Linked DNA regions of Homo sapiens: regions 2, 3, 4 and 5 are each linked to region 1. The links come from fine-mapping of genetic effects on plasma protein levels. A gene starts in region 1. Each other region holds a variant in brackets. All regions are shown on one strand. Distances are between the middles of the regions.

Region 1 (5,000 bases):
TCCCTTCCTTCAGCAGGGTCTGGAGGGAAGGATAAGAATAATAATGCCATCTACCCATCAGGGGTGTCCAATCTTTTGGCTTTCCTGGGCCACATTGGAAGAAGAATTGTCTTAGGCCACACATACTAACACTAATGATAGCTGATGAGCTAAAAAATTACAAAAAAGTCTCATAATGTTTTAAGAAAGTTTATGAATTTGTGGTGGGCCACATTCAAAGCCATCCTGGGCTGCATGCAGCCCATGGGCCGCAGGTTGGACAAGCTTGCCTTACTTATATAGTGCTCACTATGTATTGGTCACTCTTCTGGGCATTTATAGGTATTTATTTATTTAATTCTCACAATACCCTATGACATGCATGCTACTATTATCCTGATTGTATAGATAAGGCAACTGAGGCACAGAGAGGTTAACTAACTTACTCAAGATCAATCAACTAGCAAGTGGCTGAGACATAATTTGAACCCAGGTAGTCTGGCCCTAGAATCTTTACCCTGCATCATATTTCAAGAGTCCAAACCCATGAACCTCTGCCCTCCCATGTCTTCTTCTCTTCTGGATGAGCCTGTGGTCAGAGTGTAACCCAAGTTTCCCTCAATGGGCAAAGGCTAGCACAGGAATTTGGACCTGACCTGATGGAAGGTGGCTCCATCCAACAGGACCCCATCTCGGAACCACAGCAATTCAGGGGTAGGGCGGGCATCCCCACGGCTCCGACATGTCAGGTTCGCAGGAACTCCAGCAACCAGAGACACAGAGGGGCCGCCCAGCACCTGGGGGGCTTCTGGGGGGACTGCAAGGTGGATTTGGGGTCAGAGATGGATCCTGATCTTCTCAGCTCCAATTGACCATGCCCCTGGGCTCCCTGGGCTCTGCTACTCACAGCTAGTACGGGCTGCCCTCTTGGGCTCCCAGGGGACAAGTGGGCGAGGTCCTTACCCAGCACGTGCAGTTGGGCTGGTCTGGAGCGGAGGCCTGCTTGTGTAGCCTGACATTCATATGATGCTTCATCCTCTAGCTCCACGGGCCTAATGTGGAGGTCATGCTGGCCATTGGCTGCATTCCCTGATATCCAGTACCGGGACCACCCTGGAGTCAGGGAGAAGGCAGTCAGCACACCATGGTTCTGAAATCCTGGCCTCAGGCCTCCATCCCCAGACATCCTCCACCAGAAAACTGGCCCACACATTTGGTGGTAAGACACTATTAAAAAGTGTGTACTGGGCCCAGAGAGACTCTAACTCCCTCCCAACCCAGAGTCACTGCAAACTTAGGGGTAATAAAGTCAGGAAGGAAAGCAAGAAAATGATTGCCATAAAAATTAGGTTAGATACTACTTCTGGAGTGAGGGGGAGGGGGCTATGATAGGGGAAAGGAACACGGGGTCTTCTGGGGAGCTAGCAATGGACTTGGGTATTGGCTGTGTGTGTCTATTTTATTTGGTAAATCTTCCATTTATATTTACTGTACTTTTTTGCATTTATGTTCTCTTTTTTTTTTTTTTTTGAGACAGGGTCTCACCATTGCCTGAAGTGCAGTGGCTTGATCATGGCTCACTGCAGCCTTGAACTCCTAGGCTCAAGCAATCCTACCACCTAAGCCTCCTGAGTAACTGGGACTATAGATGCACACCACCATACCCGGCTAATTTGTTTAAAATATATATATACATTTGTGTAGAGATAAGGTCTTGTTATGTTGCCCAGGCTGGTCTCAAACTCCTGGTTTCAAGCGATCCTCTGGCCTCAACCTCCCAAAGCGTTGGGATTACAGGCGTGAGCCACTGCACCTGGCCTATGTACTATTTTGCAATAACATAATAATTCCCAAACTCCGTGGGTCACCCCCAAAGAAGCAGCTCAAAAATCAGGACTCCTAAATGTTTACCCGAGCCCATCAATTTCCCAAACTTGAAAATGTCAAAATAGAAACTGCAGGTACAGCCGAGCCCAGCAACTCTCCCCCTAGCCAGCCCGTCCCAGCGTGGAGAGAACACTCTTACCTGGTAGGTCCCTTTGGCCCCCTAGGGCCAGCCCACTCTTAGTCCACTGAACTAGCCCCCAGTAGGCGCCCAGAGCACACGGCAGCCGGGCTTCCTCCCCCAGCAGCACCACCAGGTCCTCTGGCTGTTGCAGGAAATGGGGCGACGGGCCTAGGAGAGTTCGGGGCAGCAGGGCTGAGCTTAGCACCTTCAGGGGCCTCCTCATTCAGGACCCAGGAGTCCCAGCCCCCAGCTCCCTTCTCGCTAGTGAAGAGGCAGCCCGCAAGCAACTCCCCACCCCCACCCCATATTCCTCCGCTCCCCTCGTGCGGTACCTGCTCTCCCTCTGAAGCAGAAGAGGAGGACGAGGAGGGCGGGGACCCGCATCCTGAGCATTCGTCCCCCAAGGTTCACGAGATTTGCCGTCGCACTGGCCTTCCCGTCAACTTCTTCCTCTCAAGCACGCCTCCTGTCACCCTGGCCCGGAGCCCCCTTCACGCTCGACTCTTCGCCCAGCCTAGTCTCTGGCCTGGAGTCCTCCAAGTCTGCTCATCCGCAGCCTCTGACGCTCTGAAACGCCTGCCAGTTCCGCGGCCTGGGTCTCTGGGAGACCCCAAGAGGGCCCGATCCCGCTCGCCCCGCCCGGGTCCGCCCCCCGGGAGCTCCGCCCTCTTCCCGTTGAGAAACTCCCGCGGCTGAGACGCGGATGAATGGGGGACGCAGGGCGGGATCCCCCGGCGGGTGGGCGCCCCCAGCTCAATTGGGGTCTGGGAGCCGGAACACCTGGGTTCGAGGAGGGAGGGGGTCCCGGCTGGGTTGGACACCTGCGCCCTGCCGGGGTTGAGGGGCAGGCAAGGGGTGAGGAGGAGGGAAGGGAGAGAGTGGAAGAAACTTGCTCAGCCCAGGTCCTAGAGGGACTGCGCTCAGTGGAAACTGAGCTATAAATGGGAGCTCCTGGGGCCTCGCCAGTTTCCGCGCCCTGGGGGATGCGGGGTCCGGGGCTCCCCCGGGCCTGCGTGTCGGGAAGAGGGCACACCGATACCTGGGGGACAGTTGGGACCCCTACCTCGACTCCCCCAGCCTCAAAACCCCTCCTCAAAATATCCCTCTGTTCCCTTGTTATTGCTGCAAACTACAGCACGTCCTAAGACCCAGGAATCCAGGCCCTCGGCCCCTCCTTTCCCAGGACCCCGCAGTCCCAGCCCAACCCCTCTCCCCACTCGGCCGGCCGGGCCCCTCGGCCTGGTTGCCCGGCGACGGCTGGGAGGCGGCGGTGCCGGGCCGGGGCAGGCAGGGAGGCTGGGAACCGCGCAGCTTGTCCTGACGGCTCCATGCAGCCCAGCTGGGGCGTTCCCACGCTGCGCAGCTGGCCGAGCAGGTGGGAGGGACCCCGAGCAGCCTGAAGGAGGGCTGGGGGGCTGGGACCCTGATCTGACATTCCTGGACCTGTAAGAACTGGAGGGTCCACATTCAGATTCTCCACTGTTCTTAGGCTCAGACTCCGTGTCCCTAAATGGGGGAGTGGGGTTGGGAGTGGGGGTTGGACTTACAGGGTTATAAGGGACTGGTGGTTCAGGCCTTTGCTGGCTGAGACGCTGATGGCCTGATCTCCCGGTTCCTTGAGAGGCTGGAGACTCAAGGTGCACTCAAGTGCATGGTGCACTTGGAAGAGGGTGACAGGGGTCAGAATATCTGGTCTTAAGTCTTAAGAGTCGGTGGATCTATCTGCCAATCTCTCCCCACCCCCACACAGGCCCAGGAGGATTTGGAAATCAGACCGTGAACATCTGTCCTAAGTCCTGTGTGTATGTGTGTGTGTGTGTGTGTGTGTGTGTGTGTGTGTGTGTGTGTGTGTGTGTATGGGGAGGTGCGGGGGTGGGTAGTGTGGCCAGGAGGATCAGAGGCCCAAATTCCCGAGTCCTTGGAGAGAAGGGACTGAGACCCCAGGGTCTGAGAGGGGAGGGATCTGGGGGCCTACACTCCCGGCTTCTGTGTGGCTTATCTAGTGCCTGGATTTTGAAATAGGATGGACATGGGGCTGGAACTCCTGAGTCTTAGGGAGGAACTCAAGTCATGGGGCTGTTTTTCCAGGCACTTGACGCCGCTTCCCCTTCCTGGCTCTCTGGGGCTACGGACATGGAAAGATGGAGAGCCCAAGGTCCCAGGAGCATGCAGAGAAGGAAAACAGCCAAGGTGGAGGGTGGAAGGTTTGTGCTTATTAAAGGCCCCAGCAAGGGACAGCTCCACGCTCTGGCACCTAGGGACACCATCTGGCGAGGGCCCCCAGGACAGAGCCACTCCCCCAGCTCGGCATCCAGCCCATTTCCCAGGGGGTGTAGAGAGCAGTTGGGAGAGGGGAGGTGGGAGGAGGGCAAGGAGTCAAGCATGTGAGGGAAGATGGAAGTCCAGCATCGAGGATGAAGCTGGGGGCTGAGGCCAGATGCCTCATCTTGTTCCTGGGAACGATATTGGCGGGGGTCTTGGGGAGGTAGGGAGAAAACTAGCATTTCCAATTCCCGCAGGAGATAAGCAGGCAGAAGAAGCTTATCCCAGGCAAGTGTATGTGCACGCGGGGAGGGCAGGCCCACCAGCATATGGTTATAAAATCCAGGGATGTGATGAGCAGAGCCACTCGGAGATGGAGAGACACATAAGAGAAAGAGGCGTGGTCAGAGTGTGGCTGAGAACAAATATTTATGGAGCTCCTGGTGTGTGTGAGACAGACTGTGGGGTGAGGGGAGCGACAGAGGTGAGAACAGAGACAGAGAAACAGAATAACAGAGACATATAGAGATGGAGAGACACAGTGAAATAAAGATTGACTGAGATTTAACAACTTAATATAGAGAGCGAGAGAGTCTCAAACAGATGGAGAAAGATAGAAAGATAAATCAGCTGGGCACAATGACTCACGCCTGCAATCCCAGCACTTTGGGAGGCCGAGTCAGGCTGATCACCTGAGGTCAGGAGTTCGAGACCAGCCTGATCAACATGGAGAAACCCCGTCTTTACTAAA
Region 2 (5,171 bases), 120 kb before region 1:
GGGGGGAGTGGAGGATGGTGACCCAAAAAGGGTAAGTCAGGGTGGGGCCAGGAATCCTTGAGGCACATGGAGGAGACGTGGATATAGAGACTCCAAGTTGGGGAGAATCTGTTAAATCCACGAACAAATATTCAGATGCCAGCTATGCCATGTTTTAGGCATGTGACATCGGGCACATTCCTTAACCATCCATGCCTTGGTTTCCTTCATCCATAAAATGTAAATGGGAGGATTGATTGAGGGAGAACAGGGCTTAGAACTGAGAGAGTACTCAGTAAAGGTCAGCCGTTCTTTTTTTTTTTTTTTTTTTTTTTTTTTGAGATGGAGTCTCGCTCTGTCACCCAGACTGGAGTGCAGTGGTGCAATCTCAGCTCACTGCAAGCTCCGCCTCTGGGTTCATGCCATTCTTCTGCCTCAGCCTCCCAAGTAGCTGGAACTACAGGCACCCGCCACCACTCCCGGCTAATTTTTTGTATTTTTAGTAGAGACGGGGTTTCACCGTGGTCTCGATCTCCTGACCTCATGATCCACCCGCCTCTGCCTCCCAAAGTGCTGGGATTACAAGTGTGAGCCACCATGCCCGGCCTCCGGCTAATTTTTGTCTTTCTAGTAGGGACGGGTTTTTGCCCCGTCTAGTAGGGACGGGGTTTTGTCCAGGCTGGTCTCAAACTCCTGGCCCCCTGTGATCCACCCGCCTTTGCCTCCCAAAGTGCTGGGATCACAGTGTGAGCCACTGTGCCTGGCCCTTTTTTTTTTTGAGACAGGGTCTCACTTTGTCACCCAGGCTGGAGTGCAGTACTGCCATAATAACTCACTGCAGCCTCCAAATCCTGGGCTCCAGTGATCCTCCCTACTCAGCCTCCAGAGCTGTGGTTGGGACCACAGGCACATGCCACCACACCTGGCTAATTGTTTAACTTTTTTTGCAGAGACAGGGTCTTGCCATGTTGCCCAGGCTGGTCTTGAACTCCTGGGTTCAAGCAATTCCCAAAGTGTTGGGATTACAGGTGTGAGCCACTGCACCTGGCCAGATTTTGCATTTTCAATAAGCTCTGGGTGTTGCTAATGCTGCTGGGGGGCTTTAAGAACTGCTGTCTTCAGGTAGCCCCTGATGTAGGTTGTGTGCCCTGTAAGTGTTAGCTAAGAAAGAAAATCAAATCTGTCTTCCCCACAAGAATATGTGCAGTACTCAGCTGAGCGCGGTGGCTCACGCCTGTAATCCCAGCACTTTGGGAAGCTGAGGCAGGCAGATCACCTGAGGTCAGGAGTTTGAGACCAGCCTGGCCACCATGGTGAAACCCCATCTCTACTAAAAATACAAAAATTAACCGGACGTGGTGGTGAGTGCCTGTAGTCCCAGCTACTCGGGAGGCTGAGGCTGGAGAATCGCTTGAACCCAGGAGGTGGAGGTTGCAGCGAGCCGAGATTGCGTCACTGCACTCCAGCCTGGGTGACAGAGCAAGAATGTCTCAAAAAAAAAAAAAAAAAAAAAGGTATGTGCAGGACTCTATCCTGTTGGTGCTCTATCTCCAGCCTATGCCCAGCACTTAGTAGGTCCTCAATCCGTACCTGTGGAGTCACTACAGACCAGACCCAGGTCTCTTGCAGGCCCTGCCTCATGCTGGCTCTGTCCGCTCTTGGGTGGAGACTCACAGCAGAGGCCCAGGCCCTCCAGGACAGCACACTGGTACCAGCCATCAGCTCACAGGCAGGCATGGGGCACTTTGTGGTTCCAGGGATGTGGTCCACTTCGGCCACGCAGGCCTGGAAGAAGGACTGTCTGGTGACAGGTGTGTGTGACAGGGTGCCAGTGGGTCCCTGGCTAGGCAAGAGGCTACAGGCACTGGACCACATCGTGTCTGTGCCAGGGTCCTCGGTGGCTGCCGGACAGACTGACCTTGGGCAAGTATGCGGCGGGGCGCAGGGCTCGGGCCTCGGCAGCTGCCAAGTCATCCACCTGCTGTCTTACCTTTGCAGTTGCCATGGAGGCCACGGGGAATCAGAGGTCGGAGGCGGTGTGCCAGGACTGGTGCGGGAAGAGTGGAGGGGGATCAGATGCATGTGAGAAGGAACATGGGGGTGAGGTATGAAGAAACACGGGACTGTGGGGGAGGGGAGAGCCGAGGCGAGGGGGTTGTAGGCAACACTCAGGATGGGCATTGTGGAGTACGACCAGCACCACGGCAGGAAGTCAGGGGAGGGGCGTGGAGACCAAGGGAGGAGGAGAGAGAGTAGTAGGGTGGGCAGGGCGGTGTGGGGAGAAACAGGGATTAGCATTAGGGACAAGGGAGGGATCTAGAGCCAGGGAGGAGTCTGGAGAGACTAAGAGGACGAGGGGCTATTCTGAGAGGAAGGGTTGGTGGTGAGGGAGGGGCAGGCAGGGAAGGGGTTTGGGGAGGAGCCAATGGCAGCTGTTGGGGAGAGGGGTCACTTCCAGATCTAAGAGGAGGAGAAAGAAC[G/A]GGGAGATGAAGACTTGGGGCAGGAGAGAGTGGTGGGGCGTGCTGGCGTGGTGAAGTGAGGGAGGAGGGGAGTGGGGGAGACACAGTGAGACTGGGCTGCATGGAGCAGGAGGTGCGGCCAGCAGGGGACTGGCTTTAATCAGAGCAGGGCTGGCACTTTAGGATGGGTTAAGGTCCAATGTGGACCATGAGGGCCAGGCACGGCAGCTCATGCCTGTAATCCCAGCACTTTGGGAGGCCAGTGGATGAGCTGTGGCCAGGAGTTTGAGACCAACCTGGCCAATGTGGTGAAACCCCATCTCTACTAAAAATATAAAACTTAGCTGGGTGTCGTGGTGCACACCTGTAATCCCAGCTACTCAGGAGGCTGAAGCAGGAGAATTGCTTGATCCCAGTAGGCGGAGGTTGCAGTGCCATTGCACTCCGGTCTGGGCAACAGAGTAACACTCCATCAAGAAAAAAAGAAAGAAAGAAAGAAATAAGGAAAGGGAAAGGGAAGGAGAGCGATACAGAAGTGCAGATGGGAGAAGGGAGGAGAAGAGTGGAAATTAGGGTGTTGGCAAGGGGAAGGGAAGGAAGGCATCAGAGAGCCATACACAGAGATCCTGTCCACCGGAACAGAGATGCAAAGTTGCTAAAATGAGGTAAATGACAGGACAAGGGTTCTCTTGACTGTCCCTGGTTACCGAGGTCCACACCAAAGTAGTGGCCATGCACACATAGCAGCAGCACATGGCAGAGGCCGGACAGTCCCAGGTCTCTCTCCAGCACCACCTCGAAGGGCTGCACACCCCACAGGCAGCCCAAAACCGTGCAGACACCCAGGAGCCCAAATGTGGTGCTCCCAAAGGGGCGGTCATGGAGTTGCCTGAGGCTGTGCAGAGGCCTGGGGCCTCCTAGGGGATGTGGCAGGGTTTGCAAGCCACCAACCTTGGCAGGCAGCAGCACCAGATGGCGGGCAAGTGGCTGCCGTGGGCCCACCCTCCATGCAGGGGGCGCTAGGATCTGTCATCTGGTGCCCTGCAGGGGTGGGGCTGGAGAGCTCAGCTTAGACAGAACTGAAGCTGGAACCTCAGATCAGTAAAGCCCAGGTGGCTAACTGTGGTTCACAGGCAGTGATGGGTCTCTGGGATGGGTGACGGCTTCGGGGCTGGGCCGTGATCAGGTTCTGAGTCCCTGAAGAGATAAGGGCTGAAGTGCTGGGCCATAATCAGGGCTGAGATTGGGGAAGCATATGAGGTGGGGGCTGGCTTTAATCAGAGTAGGGCTGACACTTTAGGATGGGCAATGGTTGAGGTCAAGTCTGGACAATGAGTGGGGAGGGGGTGAGGCCGGCATCACGGGAAGTACAAGGTCTCAGGGATTAAATGGGGCAGTGAGGGTCTGCCATCCTGGGATAGGCAACAGCTGAGGAGCTGAACTCCAGTCGGGAGTGGAGCCAGGCTCCCCAGATGAACAAACCCGGATGAGCATGCGGCAGGGTCCAGCACCCAGACACATCTCCACCACTCAGTGTTGGAAATAGGGACCTGGTGCCAGCAACTCATGACACAGCTGGAGGGGCCCCAGGGCATCCAGGAGGATGCCATAGATGTGAACAAAGTGGGCCAGGGTGCTAGTGGTTGGCAGGGTGGCACAGGATGGTGGTCATGATGGCATCTTGCCAGAGGCATTTGGACACCCAGACAGCCCACCAAGCAGCCACAGGCCCAAGCCAATATGTCCTCAGGCAGCTTGGTGCTTGCCTCAACTCTGGGCATCCAGGTACCCCCCAGTGTAGTCAGCACCTAACCCCGCCCCTATTGCTGCTGGTAGCATCAGTGTTGCATGGATCCCGGGGTGTAGGTCCCACACAGGCCAAAGGGGCAGCTGGCCATGGTGTCCCAGCCCTGGCAGAAGATGAGTGCACTGTTGCCTGGAGCCTGTAAGTGCAGATTCTTGCAGTCACCATTCACCTGCGGGGAGAGGGCAGGTCAAGCTAGAGCTTGGGGGCCCAGTGTCAGTACCAAGGATGCCTGGACCCCTGCTTTTAGCAGGGGTTCTGGGGGGCCAGTTGAGGGGCTGGGGGTCTGTCCACAAACCTAGAAATGCTTGGACTGCTGTTCATGATCCTGACCACCCTTTTCAACAAATCTTGAGAGGTAAGAATTATGGATTCTGGAGGTTGGGACTATAGTTTTCCTCAATTAGAATTGATATAGTTTATGTGCAGAATAGGCTGGGTGCAGTAGGTGATGCTTTAATCTCAGCAACTTGGGAGGCCAAGGCGGGCCAATTGCTTGAATCCTGGAGTTCGAGGCCAGCCTGGACAACACAGTAAGACCCTGTCTTTCCAAAAAATGAACATACATATTGACTTGCACCTGTAGTCCCAGCTACTAGAGAGGCTACAGGGGCAAGAGGTGAGAGGATTGCTTAAGTCCAAGTGGTTGAGGCTACAGTGAGCCGCGGTCCCACCACTGCATTCTAGCCTGGGCAAGAGTGAGACTGTCTCAAATACATACATACACACACACACACACACATACACACACACACACACACACACACGTGTATAAAATAGAACAGTTCTCAGCTCATAGTTGGTGCTCAATAAATATTTGTCGAACTAATGCATGAATGAATAAATGAATGAGGTTCATAGGTGATGCTGGTCTATAAGCATTCCAAGGATGCTGGACTTTCTAAGTAATGGCAGGGGTTCCAGGGTGC
Region 3 (5,171 bases), 30 kb before region 1:
CCCAGGTGGGAACCCCCAGCCAGCAGCCCCTTTCCCTTCACTGAAGTTCTGCTTCCTGACCCTTTCTCAGTGTACGAACCCAGGCCTTGACCTTCTTCCCACATCTTTATTTTTATTTGTTTGTTTGTTTATTTATTTATTTTGAGGCAGCGTCTTGCTCTGTTGCCTAGGCTGGAGTGCAGTGGCATGATCATAGCTCACTGCAGCCTCGAGCTCCTGGGCTCAAGGGATCCTCCCACCTCAGCCTCTCCAGTAGCTGGTACTACAGGCAGTCACCACCACACCCAGCTAATTTTGTTTTTTTTTTTTTTTAAGAGATGGGGTCACACTATGTTGTCCAGGTTGATCTCAAACTCCTGGCCTCAATTGATCCTCCCGCCTTGGCCTCCCAAAGTGTTGGGATCACAGGAACCATCACTCCCGGCCTCCTTCCCAAATCTTTTTTTTTTTTTTGGAGGCGGAGTCTTGCTTTGTCACCCAGGCTGGAGTGCAGTGGTGCAATTTTAGCTCACCGCAAGCTCCACCTCCCAGGTTCAAGTGATTCTCCCACCTCAGCCTCCCAAGCTGGGACTAAAGGCACACGTGCCACCATGCCCGGCTAATTTTTGTATCTCTGGTAGAGGCGGGGTTTCGCCATGTTGGCTGGGCTGGTCTTGAACTCCTGACCTCAGGTGATTTGCCCACCTTAGCCCCACAAAGTGCTGGGATTACAGGCGTGAGCCACTGCACCTGGCTCTTCCAAAATCTTGACTCTGGACCTCTGATCTTCAAATCCAAAGGGACCCACTCAACCTCTCTTCTCTAGCCCCTCCCTCTGCATGGCGTGCCTTCCCCACCTCTCCTTCCAACCTGACAGACTTCTCTCCCTCCTTTGCCTTGTCTACAGCTCCGGCAGCTGTTGAAGAGGAGCCGTGTGGCGCCGCCAGGCCTGTCCTCTTAGGACTCAAACCCAGACCCTGGACTGATTTTCCAGTCCCCACCGTCCTGCGGGACAGCCAGCGTATGCTAATGTTGCAAACCCATGATAATGTATGTGGAATATCCTGCCATTGGGGTTTTACATTAAAACCCCAGAATGGCTGCAGAGGGGTGAACAGGCCCCAATATTTGGGGTGCTGTGATACCCCTCTTCTACCCACAAGGAGCCCTCTTGATGATTTCTGTGAAATCGAGGCCCCTTGATTGTTTCTGTGAAACACCCTGCACCCCTAGTCCTTTCCCCACTGAGATCTTTCGGGTTCTCTCCCCTAACTCAGCTCTTCGTTCCCAGAAACCCAGATGTAATCCCCCTACGTGGTGCTTGGGGCATCCCGATACCATCTCAGTAAATCTCCTACAATGGCCTCCTCACCCTCCCCGGGACCCACACCCTTCAGGTCCTCACCCTGAGACAGGAGGGACCCTCTGAGATCAGGGACCCTTAGGTCTCACTGCTCTCTGATTCAGAGCTCAGCTGGGCCCCCAGTTCCAGACCCCAGCATTCCCGGTCACTCCCTCCCTAATCTGAGCATCACTCAAGCTCTTTATTAAACTCAATTTGGGCCAGATTTGGTGGCTCATGCCTGTAATCCTAACACTCTGGGAGGCCGAGGCGGGCGGATCACTTGAGGTGAGGAGTTTGAGACCAGCCTGGCCAACATGGTGAAACCCTGTCTCCACTAAAAATACAAAAACAATTGGCTGGACATGGTGGCATGCGCCTGTAGTCCCAGCTACTTGGGAGGCTGAGGCAGAAGAATTGATTGAACCCAGGAGGCGGAGGTTGCAGTGAGCCGAGATTGTGCCACTGCACTCCAGCCTAGGTGACAAAGAGAGACTCTGTCTCAAAAAAAAAAAAAAAAAAAAATTTAAACTCAATTTGGACTAGAACCACTGTTGTCTGATCTCTGGGGGCACTGGTGCAGGGGAGTGGCTGTGATGCCCGCTGAGGGGTCATATTGGGATGAATGTGCCTGAGGGGGGAGGATGTAGCAGCCACCATGGGTGCCAAGTCCATATCCTGTCACCCTCACCCTGGCGACACAAGAGGGACTGGCCTTTAGGAGGCCAAGGTGTGAGGATCACTTGAGGCCAGGAGTTTGAGACCAGCCTGGGTGTCAGCCCCAGAATATTTGCCTTTGGGCAATCTCAAACCACTGGTGCGGCTCTGCCCCAGGTATGAGCATGGCAAGTGTTGAAAGCCAGGGGGTTCGTGTCCACTTCCCACTCCAGCAGCCCTCAGCCAGTTACTGATAGGAGATAGTCCCCCACCTGTCTGTTGGGCTAACTTGGAAGTGCATGGCCTATGCGGGCTCCAGAGTTCCCCAGCAGATGAATCCCCAGTTCCCCACAGTGGTCTGGGCTTGATAAAATACCCTTTATTGGCTGCTCTTTCTTCTCTGTGTCTCTTCCTGTCTCCCCTACCAATGTTCTCCATCCCTTCCAA[A/G]TGAACTTTCCCTCCAATCCTTCCCTCCATAGCTGCTTTTGGAGAAACCCAAACTAAGAATTCCACAAAACCCCATTCTCAGCCAGGCGCAGTGACTCACACTTAAAATTGCAGCACTTTGTGAGGCCGAGGCGAGCAGATCACCTGAGGTCAGGAGTTTGAGACCAGCCTGGCCAACATGGCAAAAACCCATCTCTACTAAAAATACAAAAATTAGCCAGGCGTGGTGGCGTGCGCCTGTAATCCCAGCTACTCAGAAGGCTGAAGCATGAGACTCGCTTGAACCTGGGAGGCAGAGGTTGCAGTGAGCTGAGATTGCGCCACTGCACTCCAACCTGGGCGACAGAGCAAGACTCTGTCTCAAAAAAAGATACAAAAAAACCCCCAAGGCTGGGCGCAGTGGCTTATGCCTATAATCCCTGCACTTTGGGAGGCGGAGGCGGGTGGACTACCTGAGGTCGGGAGTTTGAGACCAGCCTGGCCAACATGATGAAACCTTGTCTCTACTAAAAATACAAAAAAATTGGCCAGGCGCAGTGACTCACACCTGTAATCCCAGCATTTTGGGAGGCCGAGGCGGGCGGATCATGCGGTCAGGAGATTGAGACCATCCTGGCTAACACGGTGAAACCCTATCTCTACTAAAAATACAAACCAAAAAAAAAAAAAATTAGCTAGGCATGGTGGCGGGCACCTGTTTTCCCACCTACTTGGGAGGCTAAAGCAGGAAAATTCCTTAAATCCAGGAGGCGGAACTTCCATTAACCTAAAATCCCACCACTTTTCTCCACCCTGGGCAACAAAACAAAATTCCGTCTCAAAAAAAAAAAAAAACCCAAACCCCATTCTCATACCCGCTCCACAGCCTCTGCTCTGGCCTCTGCAATATAATCACACAAAGAGCCCCCATCCCAGAAAGCCCTTGGACCCATCACAGCCCCCATAGCTAGGAACCTTTCATGGACCACAGACCGAATGTACATGTTAGCACATTCCGGGGCTCCAGCCAATGTCTCCACCCCAAAACTTAAGGCTTAAACCAACACCCTTTTAATTATTTCTTTTCTTTTTTCTTTTTTGAGAAGGAGTCTCAGTCTCACCAGATTGGAGTGCAGTGGCGCGATCTCTGCTCACTGCAACCTCCGCCTTCCAGGTTCAAGCGACTCTCCTGCCTCTGCCTCCCAAGTAGCTGGGATTACAGGCACCCACCACCACGTCTAGCTAATTTTTGTATTTGTTTAGTAGAGATTGGGGTTCCAGCATGTTGGCCAGGCTTGTCTCGAACTCCTGACCTCAAGTGATCCACCCACCTCGGCCTACCAAAGTGCTGGGATTACAGGTGTGAGCTACCGCGCCCAGCCCCTCTTAATTGTTTCTGACTGAAATCTACGCCGGGTTCAGCTGGCTGTTCTGCTGTCTCCCTTTGGTTCCTCATGTGGCTGCAATCAACCTGAGGCCCAACTGGCCTGGAAATCCACAACACCTTCACTCACATGCCTGATAGCTCAGCTGAGATAATGGAGCTTCCAGGAGTGGCCCAAGAGTCTTTCCATGCAGTCCAGGAGGGCAGGTGGATCTCTTAACTTCAGGTGGTGGCTCAGTGGTTCCAAGAAAGAGAGATCCAAGGAGACAAGTCCCTGCTTGTATCATACTTGTTGACATGTCATTGATCCCAGATCAGTGTGGGAGGCATTACACAAGGGTCTCAATATTGGGAGACAGAGTTATCTGGGGACTGGGCGAGGTGCCTCACTCCTGTAATCCCAGCAATTTGGGAGGCCAAGGAGGGCGGATTACTTGAGGTCAGGAGTTGGAGACCAGCCTGGTCAACATGGTGAAACCCTGTCTCTACTAAAAATACAAAAATTAGCTGGGCATGGTGGCGGGTGCCTGTAGTCCCAGCTACTTTGGAGGCTGAGGCAGGAGGATCACTTGAGGCCAGGAGTTTGATGCCGCAGTGAACCATGATTGCAGCACTGCACTCCAGCGTGGGAGGCAGCAAGACACTGTCTCTAAAGTAAGTAAATAAATAATAATAATAAAATAAAAAATACAGAAGAACTTAATTGGGATCATCTTATAGTCAATTGTGTGACATAGTTTATATTTTGCCTTTTTTTTCCTTTTGTGGTACCTAAAATAATGCTATTTTTTATCACTGATGGCATCTGAGGTTTTGTTGACATATAAGATGTATATCTCAATTTGTATTGTTATGGAGTGCATGTTTGTGTCCCTCTAAAATTCATTTGTTGAAACCATAAGCCCCAGTGGGGTAGTATTTGAAGATGGGCCTTTGGGAGGTAGTTAGGTCATGAGGGTGGAGCCCTCATGAATGGGACTAATGTCCTTGTTAGAAGAGATGGGAGAGTCCGGGCGTGGTGGCTCATGCCTGTAATCCCAGCACTTTGGGAGGCCGAGGCGGGTGGATCATCTGAGGTCTGGAGTTCGAGACCAGCCTGACCAACATGGAGAAACCCCGTCTCTACTAAAAAATACATATTAGCCAGGCATGGTGGTGCATGCCTGTAATCCCAGCTACTCAGGAGGCTGAGGCAGGAGAATCACTTGAACCTGGGAGGTGGAGATTGCGGTGACCCGAGATCATGCCATTGCACTCCATCCTGGGCAACAAGAGTGAAACTCCATCTCAAAAAAAAAAAAAAAAGAAGGAGACAGGAGAGAGCTTGCTTCTCTGCTCTCTACTCTCTGCCATATGAAGATGCAGTAAGAGGATGGCCATCTT
Region 4 (5,000 bases), 20 kb after region 1:
ACTATCTGAATGTGATTAATGACCAAGGGAAATTAGAAAATAGTTTGAATTAAATGAAAATGAAAACATATAAAAATTTGAGGTTGCAGTTAAAGCAGTACTTAGAGGGAAATTTATAGCATTAAGTGCTTATTTTAGTTTTTTATTTTATTTAATTATTTAATTTTTTTTTATTTTTTTGAGATGGAGTTTCACTCTTGTTGCCCAGGCTGGAGTGCAATGGTGTGATCTTGGCTCACTGCAACCTTCATCTCCTGGGTTCAAGCAATTCTCTTGACTCAGTCTTCTGAGTAACTGGGATTACAGGCATGTGCCACCACCCCCAGCTAATTTTGTATTCTTAATAGAGACGGGGTTTCACCATGTTGGTCAGGCTGGTCTCGAACACCTGACCTTGTGATCCACTCACCTTGGCCTCCCAAAGTGCTAGAATCATAGGCCTGAGCCACCATGCGCGGCCTTATTTTTTATTTTTGAGATGGAGTCTCACTCTGCCACCCAGGCTGGAGTGCAGTGGCATGATCTTGGCTCACTACAACCTCCGCCTCCCGGGTTCAAGCGATTCTCCTGCCTCAGCCTCCTAAGTAGCTGGGATTACAGGCAAGTGCCACCATGCCCAGCTAATTTTAGTATTTTTAGTAGAGACGGGGTTTCGCCATGTTGGCCAGGCTGGTCTTGAACTCCTGACCTCAGGTGATCCACCTGCCTTGGCCTCCCAAAATGCTGAGATTACAGGTGTGAGCCACCACGCTTGGCCACTTTTTGTTTGTTTGTTTTTGTTCTGAGACGCAGTTTTGTTCTTGTTGCCCAGGGTGGAGTGCAATGGTGCCGTCTCGGCTCACTGCAACCCCCGCCTCCTGGGTTTGAGCAATTTTCCTGCCTCAGCCTCCCAAGTAGCTGGGATTACAGGCATGCACCTGTAATTTTTTGTATTTTTTAGTAGAGACAGGGTTTCACCATGTTGTCCAGGCTGATCTCGAACTCCTGACCTCAGGTGATCCACCAGCTTCGGTCTCCCAAAG[T/C]GTTGGGATTACAGGTGTGAGCCACCACGACTGGACTAGTTTTCGTTTTTTTTTTTTTTTTTTTTTTAAGAGAATAACCTCAAATGCATATTCTAAGTTTTCATCTTAAGAAACTGTGGCTCATGCCTGTAATCCCAGCACTTTGAGAGGCCAAGGCGGGTGTATTACTTGAGGTCGGGAGTTTGAGACCAGCCTGACCAACATGGAAAAACCCTGTCTCTACTGAAAATACAAAATTAGCCGGGTGTGGTGGCACATGCCTGTAATCCCAGTTACTTGGGAGGCTGAGGCAAGAGAATCACTTGAACCTGGGAGGCAGAGGTTGCAGTGAGCAGAGATGGTGCCATTGTACTCCAGCCTGGGCAACAAGAGCAAAACTCCATCTAAAGAAAGAAAGAGAGAGAGAGAGAGAGAGAGAAAGAAAGAAGCTAATAAAAGACGAACAAATTAAACCCAAAGTAAACAGAAAGAAGAAAATAATAATGGTAAGAGCAGAAATGAATGAATTAGAAAACAGAAAAACAATTGAGAAAATCAATGAAACCAGAAGCTGGTTATTTGAAAAAAATCAATAACATTTATAAATCTGATTAAGACAAATAAAAGGGAGAAAATACAAGTTACCAATAACAGGAATGGAAGAAGGGATGTTACCACAGACTCCACAGACATTAAGAGGATAATTAGGGAATATTATGGATAACTTTATTCCAATAAATTCAGCAAGTTGGATGAGAAGGACAAATTCCTTGAATATGATGAATATGTTACAATTCTGATAGGCACAGTATTGTAGTGGTAAATCCTTCAGAGCCTGGTCCAGAGAAGCTTGGGTTCAAATCCCCTCTCTGCTACCTCTTAGTTGTGTGACCATAGGCAAGTGTCTCAGTTTCTAAAAATATATAGCACAGATCTTTGTGGCTCAGTTTATTTTTCTTTCTTTCTTTCTTTCTTTCTTTCTTTCTTTCTTTCTTTCTTTTCTTTTCTTTTCTTTCTTTTTTTTTTTTTTTGCAATGGAATCTTGCTCTGTCACTCAGGCTGGAGTACAGTGGCATGATCTCGGCTCACTGCAACCTCTGCCTCCCAGGTTCAAGCAATTCTCCTGCCTTAGCCTTCCAAGTAGCTGGGATTACAGGTGCATACCACCACGCCTGGCTAATTTTTGTATTTTTTAGTAGAGACAGGGTTTCACCATGTTGGCCAGGCTGGTCTCAAAGTCCTAACCTCAGGTGATCCACCTGCCTCAGTCTCTCAAAGTGCTGGGATTACAGACGTGTGCCACCACTCCTGGCCGCAAGCTTCTCCTTTCTGTTTTCCTCTTCCTGACAGAGCAGGCTTTTTCTCAATGGAAGTAAGGACACTTTTTCACCCCTACAATCTTCTCTGCTCTTCCCCCCACCCCACTCCAGTCTTCCCTTTGAACACTAAAACATAAAGTATGACACTTGCCTCCTTTGCTTTAGAACTTGTACCTTTATTAAGGGATCGAGAGCCCAAAGTCTTTTTTGGTTAACTCAACAAATTGATAATTCGGGTGAAAAGGACCTTGCACACCGAAAGTGCTCATCAACAGTTAATTTTTGGGCCAGGCATGGTGATGCATGCCTGTAGTCCCAGCTAATCAGGAGTCTGAGGCGGGAGGATAGCTTGAACCCAGGAGGTCGAGGCTGCAGTGAGCTATGATCATACCACTGCACTCCAGCCTGAGCGACAGAGTGAGACCCTGTCTCTTTAAAAAAAAAAAAATGGCCAGGCGCAGTGGCTCACGCCTGTAATCCCAGCACTCTGGAAGGCCGAGGTGGGCGAATCACGAGGTCAGGAGTTCGAGACTAGCCTGGCCAACATGGTGAAACCCCATCTCTACTAAAAATACAAAAAATTAGCCAGGCATAGTGGCAGGTGCCTGTAGTCCCAGCTACTTGGGAGGCTGAGGCAGGAGAATTGCTTGAACCCGGGAGGCAGAGGTTTCAGTGAGCTGAGATTGCGCCACTGCACTCCAGCCTGGGCAATAGAGAGAGGTTCAGTCTCAAAAAACAAATTATTCTTAGCATTAGCGTTACCATTAGAATTGCTATTAATAGTATTGTCATTATTATCAGCAATTTCTAGCTCTCTTTGAAATATTCTTAAGCAGTCATATACCAGTTCCCATGAATCTAATAGGCTTAAGAAGAGGCTGAGAAATATTTAAAGCTTATCTCAGATTCTTAGTGTTAAGTCACAATCTGTATATCCACCCCCCAGGTCTCCACCAGCCTTCTGGAGAACCTGAAGACCAGCTGCCCACAGAGCCACCTTCAGGCAAGTCCTCAGTCCCCTGATCCCTCCCGGCTCCCCTGAGAATGGAACCTCCTGGTCTCTGACCCTACCTCCTCTGCTTGTAGTCACAGCTGCTTAACGACTTAGTTCTGGCCAAGCTCAGTCGCTCACGCCTGTAATCCCAACACTTTGGGAGGCCAAGGCATGTGATCACTTGAGCCCAGGAGTTTGAGACCAGCTTGGGCAACATAGCAAGACTCCATCTTTGCAAAAATAAAAAATAGCTGGGTGTAGTGGCATGTGCCTGTAGTCCCAACTACTCAGAAGGCTGAGGTGGGAGGATTGCATAAGCCCAGGAGTTGGAGGATGCAGTGAGCTATGACTGAGCCACTGCACTCCAGCCTTGGCAACAGAGGGAGACCCTATCTCAAAAAAAAAAAAAAAAAAAAAAAAGACTTAGTTCTGTCCCTGCAGAATTGCAGACTTGCAGACTCCTTAGAGCTTCCTCTTTTTTCTTTCTTTCTTTCTTTTTTTTTTTTTTTTTTTTGAGACAGAGTCTCATTCTGTTGCCCAGGCTGGAGTGAAGTGGCAAAATCTTGGCTCACTGCAACCTCCACCTCCCAGGTTCAAGCGATTCTTTTGCCTTAGCCTCCCGAGTTGCTGGGATTACAGGCACCTGCCACCACACCTGGCTAATTGTTGTACTTTTTTAGTAGGGACGGGGTTTCACCATGTTGGCCAGGCTGGTCTCGAACTCCCGACCTCAAGTGATCTGCCTGCCTCAGCTTCCCAAAGTGCTGGGATAACAGGCATGAGCTACGGCACTCGGCATTTTTTTTTTTTATTTTTTTATTTTTTGAGATGGATTCTTGCTCTGTTTGTTGCCCAGGCTGGAGTGCAGTGGTGCGATCTCGGCTGACTGCTATCTCCACCTCCCGGCTTCCTCTCCTGCCTCAGCCTCCCGAGTAGCTGGGACTACAGGCACGTGCCAACACGCCCAGCTAATTTTTTGTATTTTTAGTAGAGATGAGGTTTCACCGCGTTAGCCAGGATGGTCTTTAACTCCTGACCTCATGATTCACCCACCTCAGCCTCCCAAAGTGCTGGGATTACAGGCGTGAGCCACTGCATCTGGCCAATTTTTTTTTTCTTAGATCTTCCTCTTGCCTGGAGTGATAAATTTTCTTCTCTTCCAAATTTAGTTTAATTCCGTAAGAATTAGCTCACTCCATGTCCTGTAAGAAGCCTGCATCAGTTAGCTTTTGCTGTATAATGAACCACCCCAAACATGGGTGCTTATAGCAACATTCTTCCTCATGATTCTGAGTCTGGCGGAACAGTGCTGGTCTGGGCTGGCTTAAATCATCTCTGCAGTCAGCTGGCAGCTCCACTGGACTGGGTGGTCTAGGGTTGCCCCCTTCCCACACTTCTGATAGTCATCTGGCTCTTGGTTGGAACAATGGAGATAACTGGGCGCGTGTCTCTTCTTGACTTTTTCACATGGAGGTGGTCACGGGGGTCAAAAGCAGCAATTTACTAGCTGATTCCGTCATAGTTGTGTCTCATTGGCCAAAGCAAGTCACATGGCTCAACACAGAGTCAGTGTGGAAAGGCCCCGCACTCAAGGATGTGACTACTGGGAGATGATTGCAACCATTTGGCAAAAAAATCCCCTTCAGAGCCCGAGAAAAAGGTTGCAAGTGACAGAAATGCAGCTGT
Region 5 (5,171 bases), 780 kb before region 1:
GCGTGGGCAACACAGTGAGACTCTGTCTCAAAAAGAAAAAAAAAAAAGAAAATTGTCAAAACACAACCAATAGATAATGTTAACATGCATTCTAACATGCAATTTATTGGATTTAGCGAATAGAATGTGAGTGGAAGTTACTTTTGGTAGAACTGTTGGGAAAAGGGCTTGTGGAGTGCCTGCATAAACTGGCCATAAAAATATGGGACAATAAGTTGTGGAAAGCCACAAGAGGCCTCTGAGGAGGAAAGCCTCCTAATTGCCATCACGTTCCTATGACCAGAGTGTGACCTGCTCTCTTATCTATAAACACTGTGCTCAAGGAGAAAGACACTCCTTTGAAGCATTGGAATGTGGCCAGATATGCTGGCTTCTAGTTAGGCCCACTCCCCACAGCTGCTCTCTGATAAGTAAAAGAATAAATCAGTAGTTAAGTTTATGCTGCTTCAGCACAAAGAAAATGTACCTAAACTGCCATTGCCCCCCTTTCACTGTTTCACCCCTGAACATCTGCTTCTTAGATCTAAGTGATTGTACTCAATAAATAGTGTGGAGACCAGAGCTTGGCGCCTTTGCAGCTTTTGATTTGCTCTGGCCCCTTGGCTCCCACCTTTATGAACTCTTAACCTGTCTCTTCTCATTCCTTTGTCGCCACCGGACTTCAGGTACCCTACAGGTGGTGTTGAGGCTGGTCCCCAACAGAACTTTACATGTGCTTTCATATTATGACTTGGCTTTTGCCACTGGCCATGAGAAGGACATGCCACATGTAGCCATTTGCTCATCCATGAAAACCTTCCAAGAATAGTGGCAGTGCTTCACTTCCACCTTCTAAATCTCATGCAAATTTCACCAACATGGTGAAACTCCGTCTCTACTAAAAATACAAAAATTATCCAGGTGTGGTGGCAGGCCCCTATAATCCCAGCTACTCAGGAGGCTGACGCAGGAAAATCACTTGAACCCAGAGGGCGGAGGTTGCAGTGAGCCGAGATCGCGCCATTTCACTCCAGCCTGGGTGAAAGGGCGAAACTCTGTCTCAAAAAGTAAGGCCGGGTGTGGTGGCCCATGCCTGTAATCCCAGCACTTTGGGAGGCCGGGGCAGGTGGATCACCTGAGGTCAGGAGTTGGAGACCAGCCTGGCCAACATAGTGAAACCCCTCTCTACTAAAAATACAAAAATTGGCCTGGCGTCGTGGCACGCACCTGTAATCCCAGCTACTCAGGAGGCTGAGGCAGGAGAATCGCTTGAACCCAGGAGGCAGAGGTTGCAGTGAGCCGAGATCACGCCATTGCACTCCAGCCTGGGCAACAGAGCGAGACTTTGTCTCAAAAAAATGAATAAAAATAAAAAAATGACCACTATCAAAAAGACAAACAATAAGAGATCTTGGTGAGGGCAGAGAGAGGGGAACACTTTAGTACACTGCTGGTGGGAATGTAAATTAGTATAACCACTATAGAAAAAATTATAGAGTTTCCTCAAGAAACTAAACATAGATCAACCAAATAATCCAGAAATCTCACTACTGGGTACATATCCAAAAGGAAGGAAATCAGTATATCTAAGAGGTATCTGCACACCCAAGTTTACTGCAGCACTATTAACAACAGCCAAAATATGGAATCAACCTAAGTCTCCATCAATGCATAATGGATTTATACACAATGGAATACTATTCAGCCATAAACAGAATGAAATCCTACCATTTGCAGCAACATGGGTGGAAGTGGAGGTTAATTATGTTAAGGGAAATAAGCGAGGAACAGAAAGACAAACTTGGCATGTTCTCATGCATAAGTGGGAGCTAAAAGAGTTGATCTCATGGAGGTCAGAGTAGAATGATGGTTACCAGAGGTTCGGAAGTGAGTGGCTAGTGGTGAAGAGAGGTTGGTTAATGGATATAAAAATATGCTTAGATAGGGCCGAGTGCGGTGGCTTATGCCTGTAATCCCAGCACTTTGGGAGGCCGAGGTGGGTGGATCACGACGAGGTCAAGAGTCGAGACCATCCTGGCCAACATGGTGAAATCCCATCTCTACCAAAAATACAAAAATAAGCTGGGCGTGGTGGCTCACGCCTGTAGTCCCAGCTACTCAGGAGGCTGAAGCAGGAGAATTGCTTAAACCCAGGAAGCAAATGTTGCCGTGAGCCAAGATCGCACCACTGCACTCCAGTCTGACAACAGAGCGAG[A/G]CTGTCTCAAAAAAATATATATATGGTTAGATAGAAGGAATAAGTTCTAGTGTTTGATAGGATAGTAGGATGACTATAGTTAATAATTTATTGTATATTTCAAAATAGGTAGAATATTTGAAATGTTTCTAACACAAGGAAATGATAAATGTTTGAGGTGGATATCCTAATTACCCTGATTTATTACATATTGTATGCATGTATCAAAATATCACACATATCCCATAAATATGTACAATCATTATGCAGCAATAAAAACATACACTGTAATCCCAGCACTTTGGCAGGCTGAGGCGTGGGATCACTTGAGGTCAGGAGTTCAAGACCAGCCTGGCCAACATGGTGAAACCCCATTTCTACTAAAAATACAAAAATTAGCCGGGTATGGTGGTACATGCCTGTAATCCCAGCTACTTGGGAGGCTGAGGCTGACGAATTGGTTGAACCTGGGAGGCGGAGGCTGCAGTGAGCCGAGATTGTGCCACTGCACATATACAATCAGGGACCTTTAAATGGCACTGTGTTGGAATTAAGAATACCACTGAGAACCAAGGGATAGCAGAATTGGCCCCACTTAGTATTATTCCCAATGATTGCATATGCCCTGATGACTATGTATTGGCTGGTTTGTCAGCCACTGTTAGATGTGATGGAGACGCCCAACAGAGCACACACACTGAGTTCCATCTTCCATAGGTGTGCCACCCCCAGACATGAAGCCTGCCACTCCAATGGGGGGCTGATCATCTGGATGGAGTTTACAAATACGGGCTAACTGTAATGTGTTACTTGTGTTGTGAGTTGACCTGCGGAACAATGATGAGACCATGTGGCAAGGCCTGTGTGTGTGTAGGCTGACTACTACTGGATATGTAATTCAGAAGCCAGTCTAAAGATATCTTTGAAGACACAAATCAGGAGGTACTGCTGCTGATGAAGCAGAGCTAGGGATTTTTATTTATTTAAAAAAATTACAGACAGTACAATTCACTTTTTTGTATGTATACTTCTATTTTTTACACATGCATAGATTTTTTATCTATGACCACAAGCAGGATACAAAACAATTCCAACACCTCAAAGAATTGCCTCGTGCAACCCCTCTGTATTCAGACCCCACCCCACCCCAGACACTCAGCAACATTTGATCTGTTTTCTGTTGTTATATTTTCACCTTTTCCAGCATGTCATATAAATGGAATCATACAGTATGTAACTTTTTGGGACTGGGTTCTTTCCTTTAGCGTAATGCATTTGAGGTTCATCTATGTAGCTGCATGTTTCAGTAGCTCATTATTGTTATCGTTGAGTAGAATTCCATCTTGGGAATGTACCACAGTGTATCCATTTACACACTGAAGAACATTTGCTTGTCTCTAGTTTTTTTTTTAATTATAAATAATACTTACAAACACTCATGTACAGGTTTCTGTGTGCACATAATTTTTCATTTCTCTAGGATAAGTACTTATAAGTGGGATTGCTGGGTCATATTGGATGTGTAACTTTTTGAGACTGGCATATTGTTTTCCAGACCGGCTTTACCATTTTGCCTTTCCTATTAGCAATGTATGAAAGTTCCAGTAACAAATCCACACCTGTACTCCTGAATCTAAAACAAAAGTTAAAAAAGAAAGAGTTCCAGTTGTTCCACATTCTTGTCAGCACTTGGTATTGTCACATATCTAGGGTTTTGAAAAGTCCGATTATAGGCCGGGTGCGGTGGCTCACGCCTGTAATCCCAGCACTTTGGGAGGTCGAGGTGGGCGGATCATGAGGTCAGGAGATCGACACCACCCTGGCTAACACAGTAAAACCCCGTCTCTACTAAAAATACAAAAAATTAGCTGGGCATGGTGGCAGGTGCCTGTAGTCCCAGCTACTCAGGAGGCTGAGGCAGGACAATGGTGTGAACCCAGGAGGCGGAGCTTACAGTGAGCCAAGATCGAGCCACTGCCTCCAGCCTGGGCGACAGAGCGAGACACTGTCTCAAAAAAAAAAAAAAAGCCTGATTATAAACTGATAAATATCTAGAACATCCCAGGTGCATGTTGTAGACTAGTGTTGGAGCCTGTGCTTTTGCTGTTGCACATTACTTGTGAAGCAGGACATGGCAAGCCTGGCTCTATTGCTAGACCAGAAACTGAGTGGAGAAATTCAAGCATTAGCTGACAAGAAATGATCACATTTGAGATGTACTGTGCACTATCTGATACTGGGGACACAGAGGGTGAGGAGATATGCTTGTTCACATACATTATCAGGAAATACACAGCAGTTATAGGAACCATGTTTATAAGATGGAGCTGATTTACAGTCAGACTGCAAAGCTCTAAAATTATCTCCACGATGCCCAGATGTCTGGCTCTGACTCTTGGTTGGGATAAGGCCAGTGAGCTATACAAGGTACTAGTTAAAGTCTGATATTCCCTGGGAGACTCCCAGAGCCAATTTGTTTATGATGGCTTTTTAACTTTTTTAAACTTACATAACCAGTTAGATAGCCTGGCTTGACTATGTAACCAGTGAACAGAGAAGCATAAATACCCATGCAGTGGCTGGGCACGGTGGCTCATGCCTATAATCCCAGCACTTTGGGAAACCGAGGTGGGCGGAGGATTGCCTGAGGTCAGGACTTCGAGACCAGCCTGGCCAACATGGAGAAACCCTGTCTCTACTAAAAACACAAAAACTAGCTGGTTGTGGTGGCACATGCCTGTAATCCCAGATACTTAGGGAGGCTGTGGCAGGAGACTTGCTTGAACCTGGGAGGCGGAGGTTGCAGTGGGCTGAGATTGCACCATTGCACTCCAGCCTGGGTGACAGAGCAAGACTCTGTCTCAAAAAACAAAACAATGACAACAAAAAAACCCATGTAGAGAAGTTCTGCTGTCAGCTCTCCCCAAATCAAGTTTGATACAGGTCTTAGTGCTTCAGTTCAGAGACAGTGTGCGGTCTGTGTGTGAATAAAACCAC

Which allele goes with the higher level. Alleles are on the strand shown, and positions count from the first base shown. The strength of an association depends on the size of the effect and on how common the allele is.
As copies of A replace G in region 2, the plasma level of the protein whose gene starts at base 2,589 in region 1 goes up (weak association).
As copies of G replace A in region 3, the plasma level of the protein whose gene starts at base 2,589 in region 1 goes down (weak association).
As copies of T replace C in region 4, the plasma level of the protein whose gene starts at base 2,589 in region 1 goes up (weak association).
For the plasma level of the protein whose gene starts at base 2,589 in region 1, A is the high allele of the variant in region 5 and G is the other (moderate association).

What was found. PIP is the posterior inclusion probability: the model's chance that the variant is causal. Protein levels are from antibody-based Olink assays in UK Biobank. Linkage for the fine-mapping came from a reference panel and not from the study's own genotypes, which makes the PIPs less certain.
Region 2: its variant is fine-mapped to the plasma level of the KIRREL2 protein (UK Biobank, PIP above 0.99).
Region 3: its variant is fine-mapped to the plasma level of the KIRREL2 protein (UK Biobank, PIP above 0.99).
Region 4: its variant is fine-mapped to the plasma level of the KIRREL2 protein (UK Biobank, PIP above 0.99).
Region 5: its variant is fine-mapped to the plasma level of the KIRREL2 protein (UK Biobank, PIP above 0.99).

The regions. Positions count from the first base shown.
Region 1 is chr19:35,854,500-35,859,499 of GRCh38, reverse strand. KIRREL2 (kirre like nephrin family adhesion molecule 2) reads right to left here and starts at 2,589. Exons shown (of 15, transcript NM_199180.4): 1 at 2,320-2,589; 2 at 2,006-2,155; 3 at 943-1,092; 4 at 636-796; 5 at 1-19. The coding sequence starts at 2,380.
Region 2 is chr19:35,975,884-35,981,054 of GRCh38, reverse strand. No RefSeq gene overlaps it. Among named protein-coding and RNA genes, the nearest start is that of SDHAF1, 17 kb to the left of the region's middle. RefSeq lists a silencer at 5,101-5,171. The variant G/A (reference allele first, on the strand shown) is at 2,460.
Region 3 is chr19:35,884,328-35,889,498 of GRCh38, reverse strand. It overlaps NFKBID (NFKB inhibitor delta), which reads left to right. Exons shown (of 12, transcript NM_139239.5): 12 at 887-1,547. The coding sequence ends at 940. Among named protein-coding and RNA genes, the nearest start is that of NFKBID, 14 kb to the left of the region's middle. The variant A/G (reference allele first, on the strand shown) is at 2,426.
Region 4 is chr19:35,834,028-35,839,027 of GRCh38, reverse strand. NPHS1 (NPHS1 adhesion molecule, nephrin) reads left to right here. Exons shown (of 29, transcript NM_004646.4): 23 at 3,267-3,323. Among named protein-coding and RNA genes, the nearest start is that of NPHS1, 16 kb to the left of the region's middle. The variant T/C (reference allele first, on the strand shown) is at 1,023.
Region 5 is chr19:36,632,073-36,637,243 of GRCh38, reverse strand. It overlaps ZNF382 (zinc finger protein 382), which reads right to left. Exons shown (of 5, transcript NM_032825.5): 5 at 3,130-5,171. It overlaps ZNF461 (zinc finger protein 461), which reads left to right. Exons shown (of 6, transcript NM_153257.5): 6 at 1-626. Among named protein-coding and RNA genes, the nearest start is that of ZNF382, 29 kb to the right of the region's middle. The variant A/G (reference allele first, on the strand shown) is at 2,196.